4 separate regions of the Homo sapiens genome follow, and regions 2, 3 and 4 are each linked to region 1. Evidence: fine-mapped expression QTL. A gene starts in region 1. Each other region holds a variant in brackets. All regions are shown on one strand. Distances are between the middles of the regions. Region 1 holds the start of COX15 (cytochrome c oxidase assembly factor COX15). Region 2 overlaps ENTPD7 (ectonucleoside triphosphate diphosphohydrolase 7). Region 3 overlaps ABCC2 (ATP binding cassette subfamily C member 2). Region 4 holds the start of LOC124902589 (small nucleolar RNA U13).

Evidence for each region. PIP is the estimated chance that this variant, and not a neighbour inherited with it, causes the effect. A credible set is the group of variants that fine-mapping cannot tell apart.
Region 2: its variant is the best candidate, but not a certain one, in a credible set for the expression of COX15 in whole blood (TOPMed, PIP 0.84).
Region 3: its variant is the best candidate, but not a certain one, in a credible set for the expression of COX15 in whole blood (TOPMed, PIP 0.82).
Region 4: its variant is the best candidate, but not a certain one, in a credible set for the expression of COX15 in B cells (Schmiedel 2018, PIP 0.54).

The regions. Positions count from the first base shown.
Region 1 is chr10:99,728,677-99,736,211 of GRCh38, reverse strand. COX15 (cytochrome c oxidase assembly factor COX15) reads left to right here and starts at 4,085. Exons shown (of 9, transcript NM_078470.6): 1 at 4,085-4,252; 2 at 6,478-6,659. The coding sequence starts at 4,163. It overlaps CUTC (cutC copper transporter), which reads right to left and starts at 3,978. Exons shown (of 9, transcript NM_015960.3): 1 at 3,803-3,978. The coding sequence starts at 3,863. RefSeq lists an enhancer at 4,164-4,383.
Region 2 is chr10:99,702,117-99,709,651 of GRCh38, reverse strand. ENTPD7 (ectonucleoside triphosphate diphosphohydrolase 7) reads right to left here. Exons shown (of 13, transcript NM_020354.5): 12 at 6,979-7,140; 13 at 1-5,200. The coding sequence ends at 4,969. It also overlaps a transcript of COX15 not described here. Among named protein-coding and RNA genes, the nearest start is that of COX15, 26 kb to the left of the region's middle. The variant G/A (reference allele first, on the strand shown) is at 2,846.
Region 3 is chr10:99,814,355-99,821,889 of GRCh38, reverse strand. It overlaps ABCC2 (ATP binding cassette subfamily C member 2), which reads right to left. Exons shown (of 32, transcript NM_000392.5): 17 at 4,406-4,582; 18 at 2,933-3,100; 19 at 2,621-2,801. Among named protein-coding and RNA genes, the nearest start is that of ABCC2, 35 kb to the right of the region's middle. The variant C/A (reference allele first, on the strand shown) is at 3,656.
Region 4 is chr10:99,596,308-99,603,842 of GRCh38, reverse strand. LOC124902589 (small nucleolar RNA U13) reads right to left here and starts at 2,063; the gene lies at 1,963-2,063. The variant C/T (reference allele first, on the strand shown) is at 2,846.

The DNA.
Region 1 (7,535 bases):
GGTTCTATCCATCCAGACCAATTTACCACAAAGGGTTTACATTCTGCTGCCAAAATGCAAATGTCCAATAACAGGTAATAGATAAGTACACTAGGGCCCATGAATGCAATAAAATATCACATTAATTATTGAATTGATGCCTATAGACTGAAATAGGTACACAGACAGATGTATAAAAAATTATACTGAGGAAAATGTCTATCGAATGCCAAATTAATCTTCCTAAAACATAGACCTCATCATCACATTCCAGCTGAGATTCTTACAATGCTTCTCAATGCCTGCAGAATATATTTAAACTTCTTTATAAGGAATATAGGTTTAAAAGCAGGACAGACTTCAAATCCATGTCCCACCAACTATTTAGTGTGAGATCCTAGATTAGTTACTTAAGTTTTCTATAAAACAAGGTAGATTTTAGTATGTACCTCAGAGTAGTGAGGATTAAATTAGATAATTCATGTAAAGTATATAGTCTCAAGAATCAAAAAGTATTAGTTATCTGGCCGGGTGTGATGGCTCATGCCTGTAATCCCAGCACTTTGGGAGGCCGAGGTGGGTGGATCACATGAGGTCAGGAATTGGAGATCAGCCTGGCCAACATGGTAAAACCCTGTCTCTACTAAAAATACAAAAATTAGCCAGGCATCGTGGCATGCGCCTGTAATCCCAGCTACTTGGGAGGCTGAGGCATGAGAATCGCTTGAACCCAGGAGGTGGAGGTTGCAGTGAGCCAAGATTGTGCTACTGCACTCCAGCCTGGGTGACAGAGTGATACTCTGTCTCATTCCTTCTTATGCTTCCAGATCTCTCCAGTCCCTACCGCTGGCTCCCCAATGCCTTCTCCTCAACCCAGAGTTCCTTCTGGCTTCATCTCTGAATAAAATTTTTCAAGGAACATTTCCATGATTTTTTCTGTCTCCCAAAGTAGAAAATTTTATGTCCCTCTTTTGAACTCATTTAACTCTTCATGAGTTATGAAACCCCAATTGTTCCTTCTTAAAATATGAATTACTTTCTACCTTTTATTATTTATGCAGATAAATATCTGATCACTTCTACTTGACTTAGAGTTCCTAAGTTTGTTTTTTTTTTTTTTTTTTTTTTTTTGATACAGAGTCTTGCTCTGTCGCCCAGGCTAGAGTGCAGTGGCATGATCTCGGCTCACTGCAACCTCCGCCTCCCAGGCTCAAGCAATTCTTGTGCCTCAGCCTCCTCAGTAGCTGGGACTACAGGTATGTGCCACAACACCTGGTTAATTTTGTATTTTTTGTAGAGATGGGGTTTCGCCATGTTGCCCATGCTGGTCTCAAACTCCTGCACTCAAGCGATCTGCCAGCCTCGGCCTCCCAAAGTGCTGGGATTATAGGCATGAGCCACCACGTCTGGCCTCCTAAGTAAGGTCTTTATGTGAGAAATCTTTATCATCACCCACACCAAGCACAGTATCTACCATGGTACACAATAATCAAATATTTACTAAAAGCTGAATAATTACAACAAAATTAATGTATTTATATTACAAAGTGTGATGTAAACAGAGTTTTGAGTTTTTTTCCGGGAGCACATAATTTAAAAAAATGAACGAAACAATGCACACTTCATGTAATGACACTTACTAGAATGTTCCTCACATACTGGTAATGGTCACTTCTGGTGGGGTGTGATTTGAAATTATTTTTATTTTCTTCTTTTTACTTTTCTTTATTGCTTTATTTTTTCTACCCAATATTGCTTTTATAATTTAAAAAAGCAATTTTTACTTTGAAAAACAAATAAAACAAAAACCTATCATCTGCTAACATCAAACTGCAATTGCCTTACTTATTTAAGACTATCAGTCCCTGTCCGGCGCGGTGGCTCACGCCTGTAATCCCAGTACTTTGGGAGGCCAAGGTGGGCGGATCTGAGGTCAGGATTTTGAGACCAGCCTGGCCAACATGGCGAAACCCCATCTCTACTAAAAGTATATAAATTAGCCGGGCGTGGTGGCGGGCGCCTGTAATCCCAGCTATTCAGGAGGCTGAGGCAGGAGAATTGCTTGAACCTGGGAGGTGGAGGTTGCAGTGAGCTGAGATCAGGCCACTGCACTCCAGCCTGGGCGACAAGAGCCAGACTCCGTCTCAAAAAAAAAAAAAAAAAAAAAATACTATCAGTCCCAAACTGTGAAAGGGTTAAGTGTCAATCTATGCTCTTAACCAACAGCTCTGCATTATTAACTCCATGAGTTTCCTGGTAGCTACCAGACCAGCTGTCAGATCAGTGGCACTGGCCGATGCTGATGCTGCCGGGGGACTATTTGCCTCACACAAGAAAGGACCCTAGGCAGGAGAAGATGGAGAGATGTATAAAAAAGGCTATGACAGAAGGCAGAGCAAGGCAGTTGTCCCAAGCAACAAAGTTATAGGATCAAAGGAGAAGCAGCAGCAGTTCTCAAAGTGTAGTAGTCCAGAGAGCTTTGGGAGCCTCTGAGACTTTTCAGAGTCTGCAGGGCTACAACCGTTTTCTTAATAATTCTAACACTTTATTTGACTTTTTCACTTTAATTCTCTCACAAGTGAGAGGCGTTTTCTTTTTTGAGGCAGAGTCTCACTCTGTCACCCAAGATGGAGTGCATTGGCGCGATCTCGGCTTACTGCAACCTCCGTGAAGAGGCGTTTTCAAGAGGCTACTTGACATGTTAGACTGAATGAAGCAGCGGGCATGAGAATCCAGCTGTCTTCCATTAAGATATACTGAAGAAACTTGCAAAAATATATTTCCACTCTTTTGCTTTTTTTGTTGTTGTTGTTTAGGAATATTTCTTTTTCAAAAAAATATTATGTCAATATGTAATGGGTTTACTATGGTTATTTTCTAATCAATATTTTAAAATTTTGTTTTAATTTTATTTTTATTTTTTTGAGACGGAGTCTCGCTCTGTCGCCCAGGGTGGAGTGCAGTGGCGCGATCTCGGCTTACTGCAACCTCCGCCTCCCGGGTTCAAGTGATTCTCCTGCCTCAGCCTCCCGAGTAACTGGTATTACAGGCGCCTGCCACCATGCCCAGCTAATTTTTGTATTTTTAGTAGAGACGGGGTTTCACCATGCTGGCCAGGCTGGTCTCGAACTCCTGAGCTCAGATGATCTGTCCCCCTCGGCCTCCCAAAAAAAAATTTGTTTTAATTTCTAATACAGTCAAAATAGATAGATGTAATCCACATAAAGAAAAAATCTTTGAGGATTCTTGATAACTTTTAGGAAGGTTCCTCTTCACGGAGGAAGAGGGACTTGCCAAATTCTCTGGCACCTGCCATGCCATGCTACCCTGGCACTCAGGAAGAACTCGGGTCTTGGAGCAGCCACAAGCTCGGCCACTTGGTAGCTGCGTGACTTTGGGGACCAAGCCCCGTCCCCGCCGTGGCAGCTACAGGTAACTGCAGGTTAGGAACTGGGCTCCGCGCTCGACAATTAACTATCCCAGCGGAGTACTGGCTGCTGGTGCGGGCGGTACTGGCATCCTCGTGTGGCGACGGAAAAAACGTGAAGCTGAAGTTAACCAACTTGCACAAGGTCGCAGGGCCGTTATGAGGGGACCCCGGGACTCGAACCTTGGCTCCACAGCTGAGCCATTCTCGCTACCTGCCCCTCGTCACGCCCTCCGTTTCCACACCTTTAACGCCTCAAAGATAGAAGGTGCCGCCCAAGGGGCTGGAAGGAGCTGAGGAAACGACTCCAGAAGAAATCACCACTGACTACGACTCCCGCCGGCCCGCCCCGGGGAGCCTTCGGCCGACCGTCCCCTCCCCCGCCACCTTCCGCACCGGCCTTCCCGGACGGTATCCGCGCTCGTTTTCGCTCAGAGGAGGCCCCCTGCCTTTTCATGCTCCACGCGTTCCTCCCTCGTGCGCCTGCAGTTTCCACTTGGAATTTGGGCTCCGGCGCGCACCAGCTAAGAAGCGCGTCAACAGCTGCGCGCGCCCGTGCGCGCGTCCCCGACACCTACGCCCCAGCAGCCCCCGCGAAAGCGGAGTCGCAACGCAGGCGCACTTCTGTTCGCTCCGGTCCCCAGAGAAGGCGGGGCTCCCGCTGCCCGACCCGGAAGTGCTTCTCTTTTCCTTGGCGGAGGAGGGAGACCACAGAGCCCTGGGTTGTGGAAGAGGTGGCTGTTCCCTGTCATCAGTATGCAGCGATTGCTCTTTCCGCCGTTGAGGGCCTTGAAGGGGAGGCAGTATCTGCCGCTCCTGGCTCCTAGGGCAGCGCCTAGAGCACAGGTACCGCACTGCAGCGGACTCCGAGTCGCGGGAGCGGGGATGGAGTGAAAGGGCCGGGATAAAGATAATGTAGAGCCCCACATCACGTTTCCGGAGCTCCTTACAGTGCACTCACAACGCATAGGTTCAGATCAGAGCCCCTAGGTTCAGATCTGGAACATTGACCTGCTGTGTGGTATTGGCCAAGTTAATTAAACTTTCTGTTCTTCAGTTTCCTTATCTGTAAAATGGGGATAACAATACCTACTTTAAGGTTTGTTATGAGGATTACATTCTTTAATATACATCAGGCCTTTAGCACATGGTAAAAGCTGAGTAATTTTTACCCATATAGTTTATTTTTGCTTAAAAAGTTCCAAGTAGTCAGATGAGGAAGTATTACTGCATCCTACAGAGAAGGAAATTGAGGCTTAAAGTTACTTTTCTAAAGGTGACTCAGTTAATCAGAAATAGGAAACCGAGCATGGATCTTTGGACTCACAGGGATATAGTAAGAAGAGGGCATGCATTTGCTTAACTAGTAATTATTGAGTGGTTATTATATATTAGGAACTGGAAAAAGAAAGATAAATATTACAAGACTCCTGCCCTGGAGGAAGTCAGTTTATTCATTTGCGAAATCCTTATCATGGTCTCATTATATAAAGGAACAGTGTTAGAAACAAAGCTAGCAGAAGGGAGAGAGCAAGACTGACCGGACACTGCCACCCCAAAGCTCATAGTTTAGTGGGAGATACAAACAGATGAACCTGAAGGTAGAGTGATGTGCTGCATAACAACATTTTGGTCAACAACAGGCCACAGATACAGTCATGGTCCCATAAGATTATAATGGAGCTGCCTTTCCAAGTGTACCTTTTTTTTAAAAAAAAATCTTTTTCTCTAAATTTCTTTTTTAGAGACAGCGTTTTACTTTGTCACCCAGGCTGGAGTGCTGTGGCATGATTATAACTCACTGCAGCCTCCAGCTTGGAAATCCTGGCCTCAAGCATCCTCTTACCTCAGTCACTTAAGTAGCTAAGACTACAAGTGTGTGCCACTGTGCCTAATTTTTGAAAAAATAGAGATAGGGGGTCTCGCTACATTGCCCAGGCTGGTCTCGAACTACTGGCCTCAAGTGATCCTCTCACCTTGGCCTCCCAAAGCCTTGGGATTATAGGCTTGAGCCGTTGCACCTGGCCCCATTTTTAAATCTTTTATACCATATTTTTACTGTAATTTTTCTATGTTTAGATAAACAAATACCATTGTGTTACAGTATTCGGTACATAATATGCCATACAGATTTATAGCCTAAGAGCAATAAGTCATACCATATAGCTCAGGGGTGTAGTAGGCGATACCATCTAGATTTCTGTAAGTACTTTTTTTTTTGAGAGATGGAGTCTCACTTCATCGCCTAGGCTGGAGTGCAGTGGTGAGACCTTGGCTCACTGCAACCTCTGCCTCCCAGGTTCAAGTGATCCTGCCACCTCAGCCTCTCAAATAGCTGGGATTACAAGCATACACCACCATGCCCAGCTAATTTTTGTATTTTTGGTAAAGATGGGGTTTCACCATTTTGGCCAGGCTGGTCTTGAATTCCTGACCCAAGTGATCTCCCTGCCTCTGCCTCCCAAAGTGCTGGGATTACAGGTGTGAATCACTACACCCAGCCTTTAGATTTGTGTAAGTACATTCTATGAGGTTCACACAATGATGAAATTGCTTAAGAATGCATTTCACAGAACATGTGCCCCTGTTGTTAAGTGATGCTTGACTGTACATTACAGTGTATTAAGGGCTTTCCAGTGTGCTGTGGGAGTGACCTATTGCAGACCTTGAAGAGCCTGGGAATACATCCCAGAGGAGGTGACATGTAAGCGGAGATCTGCAGTAGGTATTATTAATCAGGGGAAAGGAAGTGTACAAGCCAGAGAGAAATGTTGAAAGACCTAGAGGTGAAAGAAAATATTCCATATCTGTAAGTAGAGTGAAGTCTGAGGGAAGTATTCAGAGATGAGAAGATTCATGTAGTTGGGGATAGGTTTGAGTGAGGCTAGATTTGAAAACCAATTGGAAAACCAGTTGGAAGGCTGATGCAGTAATCCAGATAAGAGATGATGACTTAACAAGACATGGCTGTGGGGATGCTATGGTACTTCGCGCTAATCAGAATGGGGTTGAGTGTGGGTAGCAGCCATTCCCTGTTTCTCCAGTTGTAATTTGTCTATCTTGATCTTTAGTGTGATTGCATCAGGCGCCCTTTGAGGCCAGGGCAATACAGCACCATCTCTGAAGTAGCTTTGCAATCTGGAAGGGGTACAGTGTCCCTTCCCTCAAAGGCTGCTGAGCGGGTGGTGGGCCGATGGCTCCTGGTCTGCAGTGGAACAGTGGCTGGAGCAGTTATTCTTGGTGGAGTAACTAGGTAAGTAATTTGCTCGTAGTGAGTCAGGTATTTGGATCATCAGTAGAAGCACAGGTTGACTGAGGAGAAAGGATTTTTTTTTTTTTTTTTTTTGAGACAGAGTCTTGCTCTGTTGGCCAGGCTGGAGTGCAGTGGTGTGATCTCGGCTGACTGCAACCTCCGTCTCCTGAGTTCAAGCGATTCTCCTGCCTCAGCCTCCCAAGTAGCTGGGACTAGGCGCGTGCCACCATATCTGGCTAATTTTTTGTATTTTTAGTAGAGACAGGGTTTCACCATGTTGGCCAGGCTGATCCAAACTCCTCACCTCAGGTGATCTGCCCACCTCGGCCTCCCAAAGTGCCAGGATTACAGGCATGAGCCACCATGCCCAGCTGGAGAAAGGAATTTTACAGAGCATCTAGTCTAGCTCCCTCATTGTATAGATGGAGAAACCGAGGCCTTAAAGAAGGAACATGTCTGATGGCTTGCCCTGCCATAGAACAGTTGAGTGTTTTATTAGTAGGAGCCTTCTATAAAGACTGGTTTATGTCTTAACTGGTACCTGTGCATTGTTTATGTATCTTTTCTCTTTCAATCAGAGTCCAAGTTTGTCTCAAAACTTTTTTTACAGTTTGTTTGAATTAAACCCAAAGAAGTTCTGTACATCACAATTGGTTCATGTTTCTTAGGTTTGTTTAAATCTATCAAGAGACTATAGATTTAGACACTCCTCCCTTTCCCCCTCTTCTAGTTGCTGAGGAAACTCTAGTCATTTGTCCTATGGTTATGCACAGTTTAGATTTTGCTGACTGCATAACTGTGTGATATTTAACATGTTCCTTTGTCCCGTCTATTTCCTGTGAATGAGTAGTTGGTTGATCAGATTCAAATTAGGGA
Region 2 (7,535 bases), 27 kb after region 1:
GCTTTCCAACTTAGATCCAGGTTATGAGAGAATGAGCCAAGAACACAACCTAAAAGTTTTCAATTTGAGGTATATTCACTGTTGCTATTCTATAGTATTAATCAAAATATTATTGACTAATAATCCTGTTATTATTAATCACAACTTTTGGTTTTGAGTCTTAGTTTTTTAACAGCAATATTTTTTGTAACACCAGGAAAATCCTCACAAGTTATTGCCCCAGGGGCTGGAATCTGGAGCTAGCGTCCCTAAGAGACTAATATGGGAGAATTTGAAACATCTGCTATTTCTACCATAATTCTTATTCCCAATCAACATTACACCACATACCACAGCAAAAAGGACAATTAGATACTAGTTTTGAATTAATTTGAAAAGTTTAAAGACAACAAAAAGAAACAGCCCTCTGTTTCTGTAACAGAGTCTGGAAACTGCCCAAGAATTACAACGAAGTTCTTTAATGAGGTAGATGTAATAGGCATTTATACCTTCATCTAGGCTGTAGTCATCTAATGAATTGCTTGGATGTTGTAGTAAAGGAAATTGTATAAAATTGTTTTAAAAAGATGTATAAAATTTAAAAGTACGAAAAGAAATACAGGAACAAGAATAGATGTAGTGAAAACTTGGCACTATTTCTGACAAAGTATTTTTTTCAAAGTTTATTCCTAAATGTGAGCAAAGCAGTCATAAATGAATGTCAGAAGCAGTTGTAAAGATGGGGCATGGTTAGTTGTGGCCAGCTGTTTTATAAAAAATAGATTCTGTTTATACTTGCAGAAAGATTCTGTTAATGAGCATTTCATTGTAGCTGACAAAGTAGTTGGGCTAGGAGGCCAGTCACTATGACTTTGCACATATTACAACTGCTCTAGGCCTCAGTTTTATCACCCATATAAATCAAGGGGGTTGACCAGAAGCTTTAAAACTCTTCTGAAATTTATTATGATTACTATTAGAAACTCTGTTCCCACCAACCTTATCATCAGGGGTTATGGATAAAATAGGAGGCTCTTTTGGGCAGCCTGGTCTTCTAAACCAAAGGACAAAATGCTCTTCCCAAAATCATATGATTTTTCTACCTTGTCTTCTGCCTTTAGTTTCTAATCTTGTCTAGCCTCTTTGTTTGATAGATGAGAACCGAACCAGAGATGGTAAGTGACTGGCCTGGGGTACCAGAGCTAGTAAATGACAAAGCCAGAACTAGAATCCAGGTCTGCTATTCGTTAAGCCTACTGTTCTTTCCCTTAAGTGATACCACTCACTTGTCTTTCATCCCTGACAAAAAACAAAACATAAAACTGTGAGAAGCATCTGTTTAGATGATATCAGTGAGAAGTATAAATTATTTCAAAAATATAAATATGGATGTGATAATAAATGTTAATGCCTAAAAACACTAGCTTAGCAAGTGCATGGCAGACATTTTTCAGCAATCACTGGATATGATCTTGAAGTTAAAGGAATCTCTTAGGATGAGGAGGGGGTGGGGCAGGATACTTTGGAAGACATTTGGAGAATAAATAGAAGATTGGTGGAAAGTGATGAAAATTTCCCAGACCAGAATAGACACTGTGGACTACTAGAGCAGGGAGGGAGAGAGGAGGGCATGGATTAAAGAACTATCTGTTAGGTACTATGCTCACCACCTGGTGATGGGATCTGTACCCCAAACCTCAGCATCACTCAATATACTCATGTAACAAACCTGCACTTGTACCCCCTGAATTTGTTCCTTGGTGTGGGAACAAAAGTTTCCCAGATTAAGGAAATTCAAGGAGCTAAAGTACAGAGAGAAAAAATGGTATAATTTGGCTTAGAGTTAACTGCAACTTAAGTGAATGAAATGCCACATAAATGGGTATTTTACATATTTTTCATTATGTTCTATGACAAGAATTTTGGGGAAAGTGATGGATTGTGCTATCACAAGACTAAAAAGCATCACTACAAGCCACGGACTCCTATTTTGATGTTTGTGACCTGTCTCAGTAATAACAAGAGTCCTAAAACAGTTCAGGTTCATTGTCTCTGTTAACAAGAGTGGTTGGTAAGATTCAAAGGAACCAGTGGAATGTGAATTTTATGACACCATAATTATCTTCATGGGAGAACCACCAAAGTGCAGAAATGCAAATAGAAGAGAAATCTTTAAAAACCAAAGGGTATGGCAAGATAGATTTCTGCTCCTAGAAGCAAATTATTTTATTATAAGGAAGAAATATATTTAAGTAATTGGCTCTCAGCAAGGAGTAAGTGGCTTTTGTTTCTAGCTAATAAGATTTCATTTAAAATCTATTAATTGGGAGAAGAGAATAAACAAAGGAGCCCATACCAATAATAAATATTCAGTTCTTCTGAGGGATATGACAAAATTTTCCTTCAGTACTGTGGAACTCCTGGAGACCTTGCTCATGGTAATAAAGACAAGCCTAGATACCATAATATTAAAGTAATGAACAGGAAATAACACATTAAACACTCCAAGACAAAATAAGAATAAGAAATACATATATATTGAAAAAGTGATAAATGTAGGTATCCTGAGATTCTCAACTATAAAAAGAACAGTAATAGCAATTTGAATAATACACATAAAATCCTTAAGAGTGTCTGCTACATAACAAAGGCATAACAAATAATGGCTATTATTACAGCCAGGATGAAGAATACTAATAAGAGCTTTCAAACTGGACCAACCACTACTTCCGTGTTTCAAGTTCATTTTTAGCACATGAACATGATCACTGTTAGCCAGTGAAGTAGCTTCTGACTAGATCATTGATTAGATCTCACAAAAAACCAAAAATAGTATATGGAAACCAAGATGAGAGCAAAAGAAAAC[G/A]TTACCTGAGTAGGCAGCTAAAACATATTTTGACATTATTTTTAAGCAGCATTCATAAGGTTCACGGAGCACAGATAATAAAAGAAAAAGCAATGTAGAAGTCTTAAAAACCAAAGGAAATTGCTATGAAAGAAACCCTAATGAAAGGTAAGAGATTTCCAAAGGAAACAGAGGGCAGGTGCAGTAGCTCATGCTTGTAATCCCAGCACTTTGGGAGGCTGAGGTGGGAGGATTGCTTGAGCCCAAGAGTTTGAGACCAGCCTGGACAACACAGACTCCATCTCTAAAAAAATAAAATAAAAAATTAGCTGAGTGTGGTGGCGCACACCTGTAGTCCCAGCTACTCTGGAGTCTGAGTTGGGAGGACTGTTTGAGCCCAGGAGGTTGAGGCTGCGGTGAGCCATGATGTTGCACAACTGCACTCCAGCCTGGGTGACAGCGTGAGGCCCTGTCTCCAAGAAAAAAAAAAAGGAACAGAGTCTTTGCATGCTTAATCCATGTTTATCTAATTTTAAAACAATACAAGACTGGTCATCTTTTTATCTACCAACCAAGGGTCAGTATACTTATTTTTATCTTAGTTTATTTCTAGGATGATCTTAATTTCTTTTTCCCTGTTTTATGAAGCATTTAGTTCCTTTCTGTTCCCAGTATGAAATTTATTTTTGAAGAATTCTACTTTTGTTTTCTTTAAAGCCAGGGACTTTTTCCCCTATTAATCTAATCCCAAAAATCAAAGGTGACGAAAAGAAAAGAAAATGCTCCCAGCCGTGGGAGCATATTCGTGGAAAGGACATTCAAGGCTACATGTAGGAAAGGGTAAAATATAAGAAAGATTCCATGCGGACCCTGATGAAGAGAAATCCTCATGCAATTTAATGGCTAAATGTGGAGGAGAAGCAAAGCTCTGGAAGGGTAGTGGGTGAAGATGTAATTATTATGGCTTTTCCTCTCGCTTCATTAATGGAAGTGCTGTTTGTGACTCAGCAGTCTCTTAATAGAGGTTCTGAAAGTTGCCAGATGGCTTATTAACAGATTGATCTATTCCAAATTTGCTCCCTTTCAGACATTCCAAGAGTCATAAATTGAGAAACTTCTATTTCTCAGAAATAATTAATAAGAACTTTGATTTTATTGCCTTTGCCCACTCTCCTGATTCTGTTCCCCTTTTCTTTAAAAACAACCCAAATACATTCCCCATACTACATACTGATTTTAGCAGTGAAATGAAAGAACTCTCTTTATATCTTCCTGTGTAAGGGCTCACAAAAACAGGCCCAGGGAACAGTGACCTAAAATCAGACAAATCCAGGTTCCCAGTCCCCATCACAGTTTCTCCATCCTACTAACACACTTAAGGCTCAAAAAGCAAAATTAATGCCCAAACAGCCTGTGAGGCACATAAAAATGGAAAAATTTTCTATCCTCATCATACCAGGCATCAGATAAGATACTAAAATCTTCCACAGACCATTCATTTAGAAGGGGTTCTAACCTTTAAAATCATGTACTAACATCATCAACACTACGACAGGGATCTTGGATCACACCCATGATGGCTTCTTTGTCAAGGAAGCAAGGAAGTTATATCATTTTGGTGCCTGGAAATTCCTATGTGGTCGATTGAACTGCAAAGATCTTGGATCCCTGTTAAAGGTTGTGGATCTCCACATAAATGATATCTCTGTTACAGAGAAAGAAGGGGCTGCTGCACTTGCTAGAATGTCTCTGGCTTTGTATCAGATGCTACAAATTTCATTTCAACCAGGCTTCCAGTGTGCCAAATGCCAAACTTCATGCTTTAGCAAGGGAAGAAAAGGTGAGATTCTAGGAACACACCAGACCTCTCAGAAGGAGTCGAAGCCTGCTTCACTTGGACAAAGCTTGGTCCCCCGTATTAGCACCAATCTCCTGTCATTTAGTTCCTCACAGATTAAATTATAGCTTCTCTCAGAGAAGACCTGGGTACGGAGAAGGAATTACGGTAGAAAGTAAAGTAGAAATTCCAAGGGCAAATATCCACAAGGTCAGACATCACAGCATCTGAGGCTATATAAGAAAGTGGAGGAATTCAATGAGCAGCAACTCGGGGGTGCTCAAGCTTCTCTAGTCCTGGTCCAGCCTCACGGCCCCACCTGTACTCCCATCATGGGCACCACCTCTTCAAGCCACAGCAAGTCCAATGGAGCTGAGGCTCGTGTTTGTCGGTGGTGAATTCGGCGTAGCCGCAGAAGGTATAGGAAGATGGCCAGTAGCACCACCAGGATACAGGCAAAGAAGAGATAGTGGTTGTATACAAAGGAGAGACGGAACCAGCTACCATGGGCTTGTCGGACACCTTCCTGCCGAAGATCCCTAGGGAAGAATTAAGAATTTGTAGGTGGAAAAAACTGTTAAGTTTCAAAGGGAGACATTTACTGATTTGAAAGGCCCAGTAGTGTTATCACATTTATTCCATCCACATAAACATTTTATGACACCAGCTCCACAGAGCAGGCAAAGCTGAAGAACATCCCCCGCCCCAGGAGCCCTTCTGTGTCTTCCTTCCCACGGCCCCCAGAAGGGACCTCCAGGCTTACACCCTCCAGAATCTAAGCCAAGATGGGAAGGCCTTTGAAATTGAATCCCAAAAAATGAACAGAAAGGCTAGATTGATCACCTGTAACATAAGTCTTAAAATATGGCTTATAAATACAGTACTAATGAGAATAGGGTATCCCCTGAATCCAATAAAGAAATCAGAGTGTGTGTGTCTAAATCCTTTTTTTAAAGTTGCTATGCAGCCAAGTGCAGTGGCACATGCTTGTAATCAAAGCACTTTGGGAGGCCAGGCCAGGAGAATTGCTTGAAGCCAGGAGTTCAAAACCAGCCTGGTCAACATAACAAGACCCCATCTCTGCAAAAGAAAAATCAAAAAATTAGCTGGGCATGGTGGCGAGCACCTGTATTCCCAGCTACTCAGAAGGCTGAGGCAGGAGAATCACTTGAGCCCAGGAGTTCAAGGTTGCAGTGAGCTATGAACACGGCACTGCCACCACACTCAGCCTGGGCAACAGAGCAAGACCCTGTCTCAAAAAAATAATAAAAAATAAAGGTACTATGTTTCCTTAGGATCTAGGATATATCTAAATAAAGCTGTTACCTGATCAACTGTATTACAGTCAGATAAAAATAAGGCGATATGAAAACCAAGTGTAATGGTCCACCTGGCTAGAACAGAAGCCACTCTTCAGCAGTCCAGATCCAGATCTAGTTTTGTCTGGTTTGACCTGCAGTGTTCTTCTAGAATGCGAATCTCTAAACTGAAAGACTTCATAAAAAATATGGATTTCTGACTTTTCTGGACAGATGAGAACTGGCAAATGCTGGGACAGTGCTTGTGTGTGACAGTAACCAGCCCATTAACTGGGATACATGCTCCAGTTGTGGGCAACCCCCACCTAGCCCACTTCCCTCACTTCTGTCGCCTGCCTGGCTGCTGACGGTATTGAGTTTAGAGGAACAGACATCAAAGATACAAAATTCATCTGAGTTTATCTGAAATAGTCCAGGGTACAGGTACCTAAAAATTGTCCCAAATATCTGACAGTACATAAAAGTAAGGTATCAGGCTACCAGAGTTTGATGAAAGTAGCCCCACTAAAAACATCTCACGTCCTTTATTCTAATTCTGACCCACCAAAAAGCCTTCTAAGTCAATGACACAATGTCTGGAGTGCCTCTGTATGTTATGAAAGATTGCTCTAGACATCCTACCCCTGTTCTTTAGTCAGATGTGTTTTCCAGGGTAACCCAAGAATGACATTTTAGCTTGTCAGTATCTTGGAAGTGATTAGTAAGAGCTCAGTCCTAAAGACTGGTTTGTTGTGAGTAAACAAATAAAGCTGGATTTCTGAAACAGCAAAGCTGAGACTCCAGACCAGTAATGCTCAACCTTCTTTCTGTTCGAGCATGCCTGGTAGTAACAGTGGCTCACATGGAAGTAAAGGAGTTTGTTTTTGTGAGGGGGTAGAGAGGAAGGTCACTTAAGACCTATTCTAAGCTGGTTAAAAAAAAAAAGAAAGAAACCGATTCTGAGGCATCAACTGATATCCTCTGAGCTCAAGATACCAGATTGGTCAGTCTTACTTTACCTGAGTGGTAAGAATCGTGTTTTATATAGAATGGCTCCCAGCGTCCACTGAACCTCTCGGTCATACACCAGCTGGGCTGTCCGCAGGTTTGGGTAGTCATAGGGAAAGTGGAATCCTTCATGTAAGACTTGGTACATCCAAGCCGATTTAAAACACTGATATCTGTGTGACAAAAATAATTAAATTTTAAAAAAAGAGAAAAGAATTCTAATACTTTCCTTTGCAATAAGCCACTCCGTATTCCCACAAGTTATTAAAAGACCTACCTCCTCCCGCTTCACCTTCCTCACCTCTAAGTGGGTTATTTCTAAGTCAGCCTACTTATCTTGTGTTTACCACAAAGGCAATAATGATACTGTGGCTGTGTTTTTCTTTTTCTTTTTTTTAAGAGTCCCTATCTTCAGAGAGCATATTAAAATATCTACAAATGTAATTATAGGATGTTTGGGATTAGCTTCAAAACAACCCAGTTGAAGTAAGAGGGGGATTGTGGATGGGAAAACAGATAAAAACAAGATGGGCCAGGAGCTGATAAATGTTAGTAGGAAAGCAGGGTG
Region 3 (7,535 bases), 86 kb before region 1:
TGCAGGTGTACCCAACAGCTCCGAAGAGACAGCGACCATCGAGAACGGGCCATGATGACGATGGCGGTTTTGTCGAAAAGAAAAGGGGGAAATGTGGGGAAAAGCAAGAGAGATCAGATTGTCACTGTGTCTGTGTAGAAAGAAGTAGACATGGGAGACTCCATTTTGTTATGTACTAAGAAAAATTCTTCTGCCTTAAGATTCTGTGACCTTACCCCCAACCCCGTGCTCTCTGAAACATGTGCTGTGTCAAACTCAGGGTTAAATGGATTAAGGGTGGTGCAAGATGTGCTTTGTTAAACAGATGCTTGAAGGCAGCATGCTCGTTAAGAGTCATCACCACTCCCTAATCTCAAGTACCCAGGGACACAAAAACTGCGGAAGGCCGCAGGGACCTCTGCCTAGGAAAGCCAGGTATTGTCCAAGGTTTCTCCCCATGTGATAGTCTGAAATATGGCCTCGTGGGAAGGGAAAGACCTGACCGTCCCCCAGCCCGACACCCGTAAAGGGTCTGTGCTGAGGAGGATTAGTATGAGAGGAAGGCATGCCTCTTGCAGTTGAGACAAGAGGAAGGCATCTATCTCCTGCCCGTTCCTGGGCAATGGAATGTCTCGGTATAAAACCCGATTGTATGTTCCATCTACTGAGATAGGGAAAAACCGCCTTAGGGCTGGAGGTGGGACAAGCAGGCAGCAATACTGCTTTGTAAAGCATTGAGATGTTTATGTGTATGCATATCTAAAAGCACAGCACTTAATCCTTTACCTTGTCTATGATGCAAAGAACTTTGTTCACGTGTTTGTCTGCTGACCCTCTCCCCACAATTGTCTTGTGACCCTCTCCCCACAATTGTCTTGTGACCCTGACACATCCCCCTCTTCGAGAAACACCCACGAATGATCAATAAATACTAAGGGAACTCAGAGGCTGGCGGGATCCTCCATATGCTAAACGCTGGTTCCCCGGGTCCCCTTATTTCTTTCTCTATACTTTGTCTCTGTGTCTTTTTCTTTTCCAAGTCTCTCATTCCACCTTACGAGAAACACCCACAGGTGTGGAGGGGCAACCCACCCCTTCACAGGTGCTTTTTGTTTTCTCCACGCTACTACCTGGAGCACATAAAGGCTGATGCAAAGCTTTCAATTGCTCCTTTCTGCTGGTCCCTGATACTCCTGCCCCACTCTCCTGGCCTGGCTCCCAATTCCTGTCACCTACACCATCCTGTTCTTTGTTCCCGCCTTCTCCTTCCAAAGCTACAGACTTCCTGATTTAGATTTTTCTTCTGTCTTTTTTGAGCAGAGATGGGGTTTCACTATATAGCCCAGGGTGGTCTCAAACTCCTGGGCTCCAGTGATCCTTCCGCCTTGGCCTCCAAAGGGCTGGGATTACAGGTGTGAACCACCACATCCAGCCCTGGCTTAGATTTTTCTTTCAAACTCTTGGGCTTCTCAGGGTGGTTTTCTTGTTGTTGTTGTGTTTTGTGTGTGTGTGTGTGTGTGAGATGGAGTTTCACTCTTGTTGCCCAGGCTGGAGTGCAATGGCACGATCTCAGCTCACCGCAACCTCTGCCTCCTGGGTTCAAGCAATTCTCCTGCCTCAGCCTCCCAAGCAGCTGGGATTACAGGCATGTGCCACCATGCCCAGCTAATTTTGTATTTTTAGTAGAGACGGGGTTTCTCCATGTTGGTCAGGCTGGCCTCGAACTCCTGACCTCAGGTGATCCACCCGCCTCAGCCTCCCAAAGTGCTGGGATTACAGGCGTGAGCCATCGTGCCTGGCCCTCCCAGGGTGGTTTTAAACCATTACTTGTCCTCACCTCATGGTCAGAACATGCTGTCACTTGTAGGCTGTGTAGCTACTCCCTCATCTGACTGATTTCTGGAATGCCTCTACAGCCTTCTGCCCTGGCTTTCTCGACCTGAACTCCTGCTGGTGACAACCACCTGAGGGTGATAACCAGACCAATGCACAGGACTGCTGTTGGCAGGTCCTTGGGAAGGGTCACAGTAAACAGAGCTCCACTGCTGACTGGGGCTAACTGGTGAACCCAATGGTGGTGATATTAGAGGCTGTTGCTATGGTATACTCTGAGACTACGCAACTGCCATAATTTTTTTCTGGTTCAAACACCCAGTGGTTTTGGTATATTAATCAAAATCCCTTTGTTAGGATCTACCAAGAATTTAGCAGTACACTAATAGTGCCAGCCCATGAAGCTGTCGAGGAAGTGGTTTTAATGGATTTGGGGTAGATGGGATGACATGTGTGACTAGAGTCAATAGGAACATGGCATCCCTAAAAGAGGGACCGTTGTGCCACTGGTGTTTCTTCCACAAGGGTTACTCACTCAGACTTTCAGTTGTACCCTTCTAAAGAGTGTCCTTTGATTGTGTGTCAGACATCAGATGAGCAGGATAAGTCACCAGTTTGGCCCAGGCATAGAGTTTCAATTTCTATGTTTCCTCAAAGAGACACAGAACCCAGAAAGCAGAGTTTGAATCTCTGGGTAGTTTGCTTCCAAATCTAGTTCACTGGATACTGAGCAGTTCAGGAATTAGATATTGATTTACCATTCCACCCATGGCCCAAGTTCTATCTTGTCCCAATCCTTCTTACATACCTGTGGCTTCCTCTTCAGGGCCTGTATGTCTTAGAAATGTCTTCAGATTCTTAGCAAACTCTCCTTTTTTGGCCAGGAGAGCACTGTAGGATCCTTTCTCTACAATTGTTCCATTCCCCAGAACTACAATCTCATCCACTTGAGGAAGAAAGTGCATGCTATGTGTAACCAAGAGTCGAGTCTATAAAAATAATATGAAGTTGTGTTGATTACCATATGTCCACCATCTTCCCTGTCTTACTTGCCAGACATGTCCTCCCCTCTCCCTCCCACCCCACCTTTATATCTTCATCATGTTCAATGATTTCTCACCTTGCCTTTCAACAGGCCATTGGGGCCCAAGACCTTATTAAAAATATGTTTTCCTACATGAGCATCCACTGCAGACAGGGGGTCATCTAGAAGATAGATGTCTAAATTTTGGTAGGTAGCTCTGGCCAGGCTGATCCGCTGCTTCTGACCCCCACTAAGATTTATACCCTGAAGAAGAAAATAATTCATATTAAGCACTACTCCCTAGATCCACCTTCACAGAATCTAATAGGGAGGGGTAAAAGGAAGAAATTTGTCTCAATAAGGTGTCAAGGGGTTAAAAATCTTACAAGTTCCTTTATACAAATAAAGAACTGATTCAAATAAATAACTTTAGTCCTAATAATTAGATATGGCCAACTTACCACTTTTTATCAGATAATTTACTTATTTAATAGTTTTGTTGCTTGTCACCCTGTGACAATGTAGAGCAGAGGTTTTTTCTATTTTGTTCATGGATGTAATTCCAGAACTTAAAACACTGTTTGGCACATAGTAGGTGCTCAATAAGCGTATGCTAATTAATGAACAAAATTACTCCAGAGCTGTATCTTCATTAATCTTCTAACATCTCAAGATTTTTGTTCCCCAAGATTGCTACATTTATTTCTAGTAATGGGGAGGGAGGATGAAAACATCCTAAATATGCAGGGTCTTTATTTAGAGGTTTCAAAATAAATTATGCTAGATCTATATAATAAATACAATACAGTCATTAAAAAT[C/A]TTTTTTTTTTTGAGATGGAGTCTTGCTCCATCTCCTAGGCTGGAGTGCAGTGGCGCAATCTCAGCTCACTGCAACTTCTGCCTCCCTGGTTCAAGCAATTCTCCTGTCTCAGCCTCCCGAGTAGCTGGGACTACAGGCGCCTGCTACCACACCCGGCTAATTTTTGTATTTTTAGTTGAGATGGGGTTTCACCTTGTTGGTCAGCTGGTCTTGAACTCCTGACCTCAGGTGATCCACCCACCTTGGCCTCCCAAAGTGCTAGGATTATAGGCGTGAGCCACTGTGCCCAACCCTAAAAGTCTATTTTTAGGAAAGGCCTTTAATAACATCAAAAGATAATTCACAATAAACATCTAAGTGTTCAAAGCAGATTAGTAGAATCTTCCTCTGGCCTCACTGATACAGAAGTAGAATCAGGACACCTAGGCTCTGGTCCCACTTCTGCCCCACCACCTGTGAGATCAACCTTGGGCCAGTCACTGTTAACTTCTCATGGCCTTTGCCTCATCATCTTTGATTTAAATTACATAATTCCTGTATCTGTTTCCAAGCAGAAAGTTTGAAATTCTGAGTTATTTACATGGAATATTGTGGCCACTTAGTACAAACACATGATTTCTGGTGTTTATTCCAAATATGACTACCTAAATTAATCAACTAGATTACCCCTGTGTAGTTCTTCACCACCATCCTCACTTTTTCTCTTCAATATGCCTTCACCCTTGAAGATCCCTTGTTATCCCAAGTACCTTCTCTCCAATCTCAGCCAAATCTCCTCCAGGCAGCATTTCCAAGTCTGGGAGGAGAGCACAGGCCTCCAGTACTTGCTGGTACCTCTTTTCATTAAACTCTGTTCCAAAAAGGATGTTGTCCTTTATGGTGCCATTCTGAATCCAGGACTGCTGTGGGACATAGGCAGTGGTGCCCTAGATGAAAAAGGATCAGATCATGTTACAGCTGCACCTCCAGAAACGCAGGGTTGAAGGACGGGGTGGCTGGAGAGGGGAAGAAACAAATGGAGCTTAAATTTAAATAACTGTGCATCAGGATGACTGAGGATCTGATATGTATTCACGTGCTTGTAGTTATTCCACTCTCAGGACTCAATATCCTCTTCACCATTAAAAGCCCCATCCACTTTTGTTGGACTATCGTTTTTCAGCCATGATCCTGAAAATTAGATGATAAATGTGTGTGATGCTTCTAGAAGAGGGTTTTAGTCAAACCCAATTGAGTTTACTAGGACCAACGAAAGGCTAACACTGACAAGGGAATGGTATAGATCAGCGGTCCTCAACTTTTTGGCACCAGGGACCGGTTTTGTGGAAGACAATTTTTCCATAGATGGGGTGGTGGTGGGAGATGGTTTCGGGATGAAACTGTTCCACCTCAGATCATCAGGCAGTAGATGCAACCTAGATCCCTGGCATGTGCAGTTCACAATAGGGTTCATGGTCCTATGAGAATCTAATGCTGCTGCTGATCTGACAGGAGGTGGAGCTCAGGTGATAATGCTCGCTCGCCGCTCACCTTCTCCTGTGTAGCCTGGTTCCCAACAGGCCATGGAACAGTACCAGTCTGAGGCCCACGGGGTTGGGGACCCATGGTATAGATGACATCTTAAGAAGCAAGATTATAACCAAAGAGAGATGGAAACTGGGCGCGGTGGCTCACGCTTGTAATCCCAGCACTTTGGGAGGCCGAAGTGGGCGGATCACCTGAGATCGGGAGTGACCAACCTGGCCAACATGGCAAAACCCCATCTCTGCTAAAAACACAAAAAGTAGCTGGGCTTGGTGGCACAAGTCTGTAATCCCAGCTACTCGGGAGGCTGAGGCAGGAGAATCGCTTGAACCCAGGAGGCAGAGGCTGCAGTGAGCTGAGATTGGGCCACTGCACTCCAGCCTGGGAGACAGAGTGAGGCTCCATCTCAAACAAACAAACAAACAAACAAAAAACAGAGATGGAGGCCGGGCGCGGTGGCTCACGCCTGTAATTCCAGCACACTGGGAGGCTGAGGCAGGTGGATTACGAGGTCAGGAGTTCAAGACCAGCCTGGCCAAGATGGTGAAACCCTGTCTCTACTAAAAATACAAAAATTAGCCGGGCATGGTGGCATGTGCCTGTAATCCCAGCTACTTGGGAGGCTGAGGCAGAGAATTGCTTGAACCCAGGAGGTGGAGGTTGCAGTGAGCCGAGATCACGCCACTGCACTCCAGCCTGGGTGACAGACTGAGACTCCGTCTCAAAAAAAAAAAAAAAAACAAGACCAGAAATGGAGACCAACAAAGGCCTGTGTTTGAGGAAGAACCCAGTTATGAGTTAGCAAGAAAAAAGCTTCCCAAAAGGAGTTAGAAGACAGACTTAAATCTGTAGCCTGCTCTGCTATAGCGCATGTTTTTTAAATTGCAGATTAGTTCATTAGTGATTGCTAAATCAGGAAATGATGTCAGTATATGGTAGAACAGCTGGTTCTTACATTTTTTTGTCAAGCAGGTCAATATAAATCAATTGGAGGAAGCATTCTCATACTTAAAAAGAAACCCTTAGCAATATATATATGAAGATCTTAAGAAAAAAAGCTGAAAATCTATAGATACTCCTCTGTTTGGTACAAGTAGTGATAACAATTCAAAAATAACTATAATTTTCCCTAAATTTAGCTCTCTGGAAAAGTTCAGAGTACTGATGAAGATGCCATGAAAACATTTTCCTCCGTTAAAAAAAAAAGCATAATTAGCCAGTCCCAGTGGCTTACCCATATAATCCCAGCACTTTGGGAGACTGAGGCAGATGGATCACTTGAGGCCAGGAGTTTGAGACCAGCCTGGCCAACATGGCAAAACCCCGCCTCTACTAAAAGTACAAAAATTAGCCGGGCATCATCAATGATAGACTGGATAAAGAAAATGTGGTACATATATACCATGGAATACTATGCAGCCATAAAAAGGAACGAGATCATGTCCTTTGTAGGGACATGGATGAAGCTAGAAGCATCATCCTCAGCAAACTAACACAGGAACAGAAAACCAAACACTGCTTGTTCTCACTTATAACTGGGAGTTGAACAGGGAGAACACATGGATACAGGGAAGGGAACAACACACACCAGGGCCTGTTGGGGAGTGAGGGGCGAGGGGAGGGAACCTAGATGACAGGTCAATAGGTGCAGCAAACCACCATGGCACATGTACACCTATGTAACAAACCTACACGTTCTGCAAATGTATCCTGGAACTTAAAGTAAAAAAAAAAAAAAGTTAGTGGGGCATGGTGGCACACACCTGTAATCCCAGCTATTTGGGAGGCTGAGGCAGGAGAATTGCTTGAACCCAGGAGGTGGAGGTTGCAGTGAGCTGAAATTGTGCTATTGCACTCCAGCCTGAGTGACAGAGTGAGACTCTGTCTCAAAATATATATATACACACACACATATGTGTGTGTGTATATACATACACACACATATATGTGTGTGTATATACATACATATACACATACACACACATATGTGTATATACATGTATACACATATATGTGTATATACACGTGTGTGTATATGTGTATATACACATATGTGTGTGTATATGTGTATATACACATATGTGTGTATATGTGTATATACACATATGTGTGTGTATATGTGTATATACACATATGTGTGTGTATATGTGTATATACACATATGTGTGTGTATATGTGTATATATATGTATATATACACATACACACACATATATGTTTGTGTGTATGTATATACACACATATGTGTGTATGTATATACACACATATGTGTGTATACACATATATGCACACATATATACACGTGTGTATATATACCCATATATGTATATATGTGTATATATACATGTGTGTATAC
Region 4 (7,535 bases), 130 kb after region 1:
AATTGCTATAATTTTGCCCCATTTGATCTATTGTCTTTCTATCAATCCATATATGTGCATACACATATTTTTTCTGAACTATTTATGCCCCCTTTATCCATAAATATGTCAGTATTTCCTAAGAACAAGAATTTTCTCGGCCAGGCGTGGTGGCTCACGCCTGTAATCCCAGCACTTTGGGAGGCCGAGGCGGCCGGATCACGAGGTCAGGAGATCGAGACCATTCTGGTTAACGCGGTGAAACCTATCTCTACTAAAAATACAAAACAATCAGCCGGGCGTGGTGGCGGGCGCCTGTAGTCCCAGCTACTCGCGAGACTGAGGTAGGAGAATGGCGTGAACCCGGGAGGTGGAGCTTGCAGTGAGCTGAGATCGCGCCACTGCACTCCATCCAGCGTTGGTGACAGAGCGAGACTCCGTCTCAAAAAAAAAAAAAAAAAAAAAAAAAAAAAAAAAAAAAAAAAAGAATTTTCTCTTACATAACCCCAACACATTTATGGAAATCAGGGAATTTGTAACATTGATACAAAATGCTTATCTGAGCTATAGTTTATATTTAAATTTCACCAATTGCTCCAATAATGTCCTTCATAGCTGGTTTTTTTCTGATCCAGCATCCAATTCAGGATCACACATTGCATTTACTGTTCATATCTCTTTAATCTTCTTTCATCTAGATCAGGTTCTCAGCCTTCCCTTATCTTTCATGAACTTGCTTTTTTGTTTGTTTTTAGATTACAGGCCAGTTGTTATGTAGAATGCCCTTCAGTTTGGTTTGTTTGATGCTACCTCATAATTAGATTAAGGTTATAGTTTTGGCAGGTGTACCATAGAAATGATATGGAGTCCTTTTCAAGGCAGTGAGGTCAGTGCATCCCTTTATTGGTATTGTTAACTGTGATTAAATGGTTATGGTTGTGTTCATCAGAGGAACTCACCATGGAGTTACTAATTTTCCCTTTGTAATCAATAAGTTATTTTCATGGGGGTGCTCTGAATCTATGTACATATCCTCTTCTTTATCAAACTTCTATCCACTAGTTTTAGCATCCATTGATAATTCCTGTCTAAATCATGGTTGCACAAAGATGATATTCTGATGTTATCATTTCTGCTATAAGAGAGAGCTATCCCTTCTCTTTTATTTATTTATATTCGTATGAGCTCATAGATTATTTTATTCTATGGCTATTCTATAGTGATATTACCACTGTAATATTGTGCTGTAATACCACTGTGATGATAATAAATAATTACCATTATTTATGCTGATGTTCGAATACTCCCAGATTTGGCCAATGGGGGTCCCTTCTGATTCCTGTGTTCTTTTTCTATATCTCCATTTTTTAAAAAGCACTTCCTTGCTTTCTGGCACAACACGATATTCTAAGCTTATCTTGTACTTTCCCCCTCTCAGTCCTAGAATTAGTCATTTCTCCAAGGAGCCCTAGTTTTTTTTTTTTTTTTTTTTTTTTAGTACGAAATGGTATTTAGAAACCAAGATCCAAGTGCCAGGTATACTCAATGCTACTGTAGTGTCTACTTCTAGGCCCTTTAGCCCACAGAGCTAAGAAATATACATATTTTATCTTAATTTCTACATCTGTACACACAGACACACACACACACACACAAAATCATGGATTCATATAGATACCTCCAGTTCCAACTCAACACCACAAAATTCATTTTAGTCCTCCCTTTCTCCATATTTATAACTCTCCTCTCCAACAGCAAGAACTAGCTTCCAATATCCTCAGTACATTTACTCATTTGTGCAACTCTACAGCACACAAAAGGTATTTCAGAATTGCTCACCCATATCACTACAGAAAAAACTCCTTCTAACTAGAATTAAATATTTGTTGGGCTTGTTTATTTGGTTTTTATCCTCCCTTCAGCATCGCAATATTATTTGTTTAAAATAGAGTTATTTAAAATGAGTTAAGTTCATTCCTTTTTTTTCACGTCAGGTAACATGCTGATGTCTTAAGGTTTGAAGGAGGCACATCTCACATGTGTGTGAAAACCCAAATCATCATGTTCACGGGCTACAAAAGGATGCATTTGTTTCTATTTGTATTCCATTCTAAGTTTCTTCCCCCTTCTCATCCTTGTTGACTTTTTTTTTAGTGGAGCTTGTGGATTTTGTGGATGGGCTTTACCGGGTCTATAAACCCCTCGGAGTTTTATGCAAAATATTGAATATGTCTGCCTTTGGAGCAAGGGTAGAGAATCCATAAGATTCTTAAAATGATCTTTAACCTCAAAATTTAGGAGCACAATAGAGAAGAGCAGGAATCCAGGGACCCTCTAAGAGGCTTCCCACTAGTGGGGTAGGAAGTTCTGCCAGACTGTGAGACTCTCAGGACAGACAGGATCTTCTTTATCTTATATGTCCACTGCTGAGCATGCACATAAATGCAGAGGGAACAGAAACCAAAGGAAAATGGAAGAGAAATGTGGGAGCAAATCTGTACCTTGAAGCAAACTCAGGATTGCTCTTTCTTTCTAAGCATTTCCCCACCAGTGACATCAGCTCAGACGTCTTAGATTCTGGTCCTCCCAGGGCATGCCTAGAACCACACCATGGTGGGGGTGGGGACACAGCCTGGGCATCTGTCTATAGGCATACATAGAAAAATAAACTAGGCCAGGCGCGGTGGCTCACGCCTGTAATCCCAGCATTTTGGGAGGCCGAGGCAGGTGGATCACAAGGTCAGGAGTTCAAGACAAGCTTGGCCAAGATGGTGAAATCCTGTCTCTACTAAAAATGCAAAAAAAGTAGCTGGGCATAGTGGCGGGTGCCTGTAATCCCAGCTACTGAGGATGCTGAGGCAGAGAA[C/T]TGCTTGAACCTCGGAGGCGGAGGTTGCAGTGAGCCAAGATCACACTGCCACACTCCAGCTAGGGCACAGAGCAAGACTCCATCTCAAAAAAAAAAAAGAAAAGAAAAATAAACTAGGCTGGGCACGTGGTGGCTCACACCTGTAATCCCAGCACTTTGGGAGGCCGAGGCGGGCGGATCACCTGAGGTGGGGAGTTCGAGACCAGCCTGACCAATGTGGTGAAACCCTGTCCCTACTAAAAATACAAAAATTATCCAGGCGTGGTGGCACACACCTGTAATCCCAGCTACTCGGGAGGCTGAGGCAGGAGAATCGCTTGAACCCAGGAGGCAGAGGTTGCAGTGAGCCGAGATTGCGCCACTGCACTCCAGGCTGGGTGACAGAGCAAGACTCTGTCTCAAAAAAAAAAAAAAAGAGGAAGAAAGAAAGACAGAAAAAGAAAAAGAAACTAGAAGAAAAACCCCAGTTCATTGCAAAGATAACTGACCCAATGCTCTGATTTACTCCCTGCACAGGTTTCTTTTGGCTGCAAGGCCCCTGCCAAATTGGAGAACAAGAGCAATTATACCTGAATAGAAAAGCCGTGAGTCATGAAGAATTAGTCCCCTGCAGGCACTAACTGAAAGCTTTCCCTGGGTATGGTGGGAGGTAGGGACCCCCACTGACATCTAAAGCAAGATTTTTCATTGAAGGGTGGCACTGCTCCTTGGGGAGCTTCTGCTGCTAGAGAGGGGCCTAGGAAGGCAAACAATAAGGTGAGGGACACTTGGTCAAGGAATATTCTCCCTGGATTGCCTCCTTTAAACAGTATATTCCACTAGGCACAGGTGAAGACAGAAGAAGATGCAGTCCCTGCCACAGGGCTGAAAGAACGTTTAGAAAATCAAGCGTCAGCAAAAGCCAAATTGTACAACACAAACCGAGCCCACACTAGCTGAGTGATCTGTGGGGTGGGGTAAATCAGAGGAAGCTCCCAGAGGAAGGGGTATGAATTTTGAAGAAGAGTTGAGCCTGAAAAAAGAAGAGAGGTGAGACAAGGGCACTCCATCTGGCAGTCATGGCTCAAGGAAGAAGCGGAGGTATGGAGGAGAGGCGGCTTGATCCTGAGAGCAGAAAAGGGAGGTCTTGCTTCAAAGACCAAATTGGAGGGGACTGGAGTCCTGTGCCTGTAAGAGGCATTGTTCTTCAGGAGGAAGAGATCGTGTGTGGGGCTGACTTGAGGAGTAAGGAGGATGGCAAGAAGTTACTGAGGTCCCCTGGGACCAGGGATGGAAAAATTTACCTGGCTGGACAGGTGACTGTGGGATCGTGTATTAATCCTATCTGCTAGCAGATGAATAAAAGATGAAAATAAGAATTGACACTTTATAATACTCTGTGCACTTATATTGCATTTTCACGTGTAGCATTTTTACAAGCAACAATTGAATTATAATTCTTGCACATCTATTATGTGCTGATCATTGCAGGTAGCTGCTCAGGTGAGCCTCACAACCACTCTCTGCGGGAAACATAAAGGAAGTCATGTACTATCACTTGATATCATGTGCTCTAAATTTGCTCAAATGTTGAGTCTCATGAGAACCCTATGAGTCAGATGTGGCAGGAATTATTATTCCTGTTTTATAGATGAGAAAACTGATGTTGAGAAAGGTTAAGGCACTTGCTCCCAGTCATATAGCCAAGGACTGTCAGCCGGCCCTTTTTGACTCATACTAAGATCTTAATAGCTTACTTCCACTTTGACTTCATGTGCACAGTGTTAACAGTGACCTCCATGTTTTTGTAATGCCATTTTGGCCTAGGTCTGCTGCCCACTTGAGCTAAACACTCTCAATTCCTGGCATTGATTTACCAAAGTTTAGTAATTCAGCTTGTTGAGGGTCTCAAGGTCACCATTATTTCTTCATGCCAGGGCTGGGTCTCAGGAAAGCAAACAAAATGCTGACGGTCACTTGGAATCTGAGCAAGCAAGGAGGCTATCCCCGGGGAGACAGCTTCCTCAGCCCTGTCTGCCACATACTCCTGCCAGCCGCTGGGAATCCACTTCCACTGCCCAGCCGCCTCCAGCCATCAGCCTACTGTCAGAATCCAAGCACCAAGCGCTTCTTTCCCTTTTCCGCAAATCCTCCCTTATCCAGGATGATGAGCTGCTTCTTTCCATTTTTCCAACCCACACAATTACATTGCCAAGATGGTCCTTGCAGGTCTCATCTCCAGGACGTGAGAACTTAAGGCTAAATCCTGAGATTCCTGCTTTATCTTCTGCCTAGCTCACCTTATTCTAAGACTGCTTTCCACAAATCTCAGAGGTGGCTACAACACAGTGCCAGGGGCAGGGTGGGGTGAGTGAAAGGCCCATACATGGCTCCAGAGGAGGCTAGTGGGAGCAGGAAGACATCCAAAGATATGTGGGGGAGTGAATGCTACTTCTTAGCTTCCAGTGAAGATCAGACACTGTAACTGTTCATATCATGTTAATGGTTTGACAAGGTTTCTACCTAAGAACAGGACATCAAAACAGGCTCTGGAGCAAGGGATCAGATTAGGAACTTGAGTCAATGTCGTGTCTCACAGGTGTTCTCAGACAGATGACTATATCCTTCCCTGGGTACTTGCAGGGTAAGCACATCCCCTCGAAATAGCAGCAGCTCTAAACATGAAATTCTTCCTGGAGGATTTTCTTACTCTTGAGTTCTATTCTACCAAATTTTTTGAGCACTTACTGTCAGGCATTCAGAATGTGAGCAATGACAATAATTTACCTACACTTTTGCACTTACAGTATGCTGGGCCCAGTTGATTCTCAAAACAGTTCTGGGAATTAGCTATAAAAATGCCCCCATCTTACAGATGAGGAAGCTCAGGCTCAGAAAGGCAAAAAAAAAACCATGCCTGAACTCACACAGCAAGAACATGACAGAACAAGCGTTCCAACGCAGGATTCCAAAGGTAGTGTGGCTCGCCAGTGCCCCTCAGGGTCCCTAAGAAGTGAGAAGCAGTCCTGCCTGCAGGAGCCCAGTCCCAGGGGTGAGACTGATTTGTAAAGAGATCATGAGACGTAAGTGCTGTAATAGAGGCATGAGGAAAGTTGTTTCCATTCTCTTTCTGCCTGTTCCTGGAGTGGTGCTCACGGGAGGGGACCCAGGACCTTTGGAAATGTAAAGTGTAATACTTAGGTTTTTGTAATTGGTCACTTCTTTGCTAGCTGTCAGAGGTTCAGGAGGCCAGTGAGGAGTGGCCGGCTTGGAGGGTCCTTGTGTTTACATGACAGCCCAGGGCTGTCATATCCATTGTCTCGTGTGATCCTACCCTGCTGCACTTGCTGTTCCCTCTGCAAGGAACGCTCTTCCCCAGATACCACCTGGCTCACTCTCTCTTTATCTTTTATTTATTTTACTTTTAGATAGATGTATTTTTTGAGACAGGGTCTCGCTCCGTTGCCCAGGCTGGAGTGCAGTGACACAATCTTGGCTCACTGCAACCTCCATCTCCTGGGTTCAAGCAGTTCTCATGCCTCAGCCTCCTGACTAGCTGGGACTACAGGTGCACACTACCATGTCCGGCTAATTTTTACATTTTTTGTAGAGACAGGGTTTCGCCATGTTGGGCAGGCTGGTCTCAAACTCCTGACCTCGAGTGATCCACCTGCCTCCCAAAGTGCTGAGATTACAGGCATGAGCCACTGCAACTGGCCTGTTTATACATTTTTTGTTTGTTTGTTTGTTTTGTTTTGTTTTGTTTTGAGACAGAGTCTCGCTCTGTCGCCCAGGCTGGAGTGCAGTGGTCTGATCTGGGCTCACTGCAGCCTCCGCCTGCTGGGTTCAAGCAATTCTCCTGCCTCAGCCTCCTGAGTAGCTGGGATTATAGGTGTGCACCACCACACCTGGCTAATTTTTGTATTTTTAGTAGAGACAGGTTTTCACCATGTTGGTCAGGATGGTCTCAAACTCCTGACCTCATGATCCACCTGCCTTGGCCTCCCAAAGTGCTGGGATTATAGGCATGAGCCACCGTGCCCGGCCTATACATATGTTTTTGAGAAAGGGTGTTGCTTTGTCACCTAGGCTGCAGCACAATGACGCAATCACAGCTCACTGCAGCTTCGACTGCCCTGGCTCAAGTGATCCTCCTACCTCAGCCTCCCAAGTAGCTGTGACTACAGGTGCAAACATCATGCCCAGCTAATTTTTTAAAAATGGTTTTGTAGAAATGAGGTCTCCCTTATGTTGCCCAGGCTGGTCTCAAGCTCCTGGACTTAAGTGATCCTCCTGCCTTGGTCTCCCAAAGTGCTGGGATTACAGGCGTGAGCTACTGAGCTTGGCCTGGCTCACTCGCTCACTTCTTCCTGGTCTTGGTTTCAGTCTCACCTCCCCAAAGAGATCTTCCCCAAATTCCTTATCTAAAATAGCCTCCCCTACCACTCTATCCCTTTCATTCCGCTTTATTTCTCTTATTGCACTTACCGCTGTCTGAAGTTTTTTATATGTTTGTTTATCATCCGTCTCCCCCAAATGAGGACTGGGACTTTTTCTGTTCTCCAGCACCAAGAACAAGACCTGGAACACAATAGGTACTTAATAAGTAATTTGTTGAGCAAGTAAACCAATTTAAGCCTTAAAACAATGCTGCAAGGTAGGTGTCATTAAAATTGTGAAGCTCATGGCCATCTGGTAAGGAAGGAAGCAG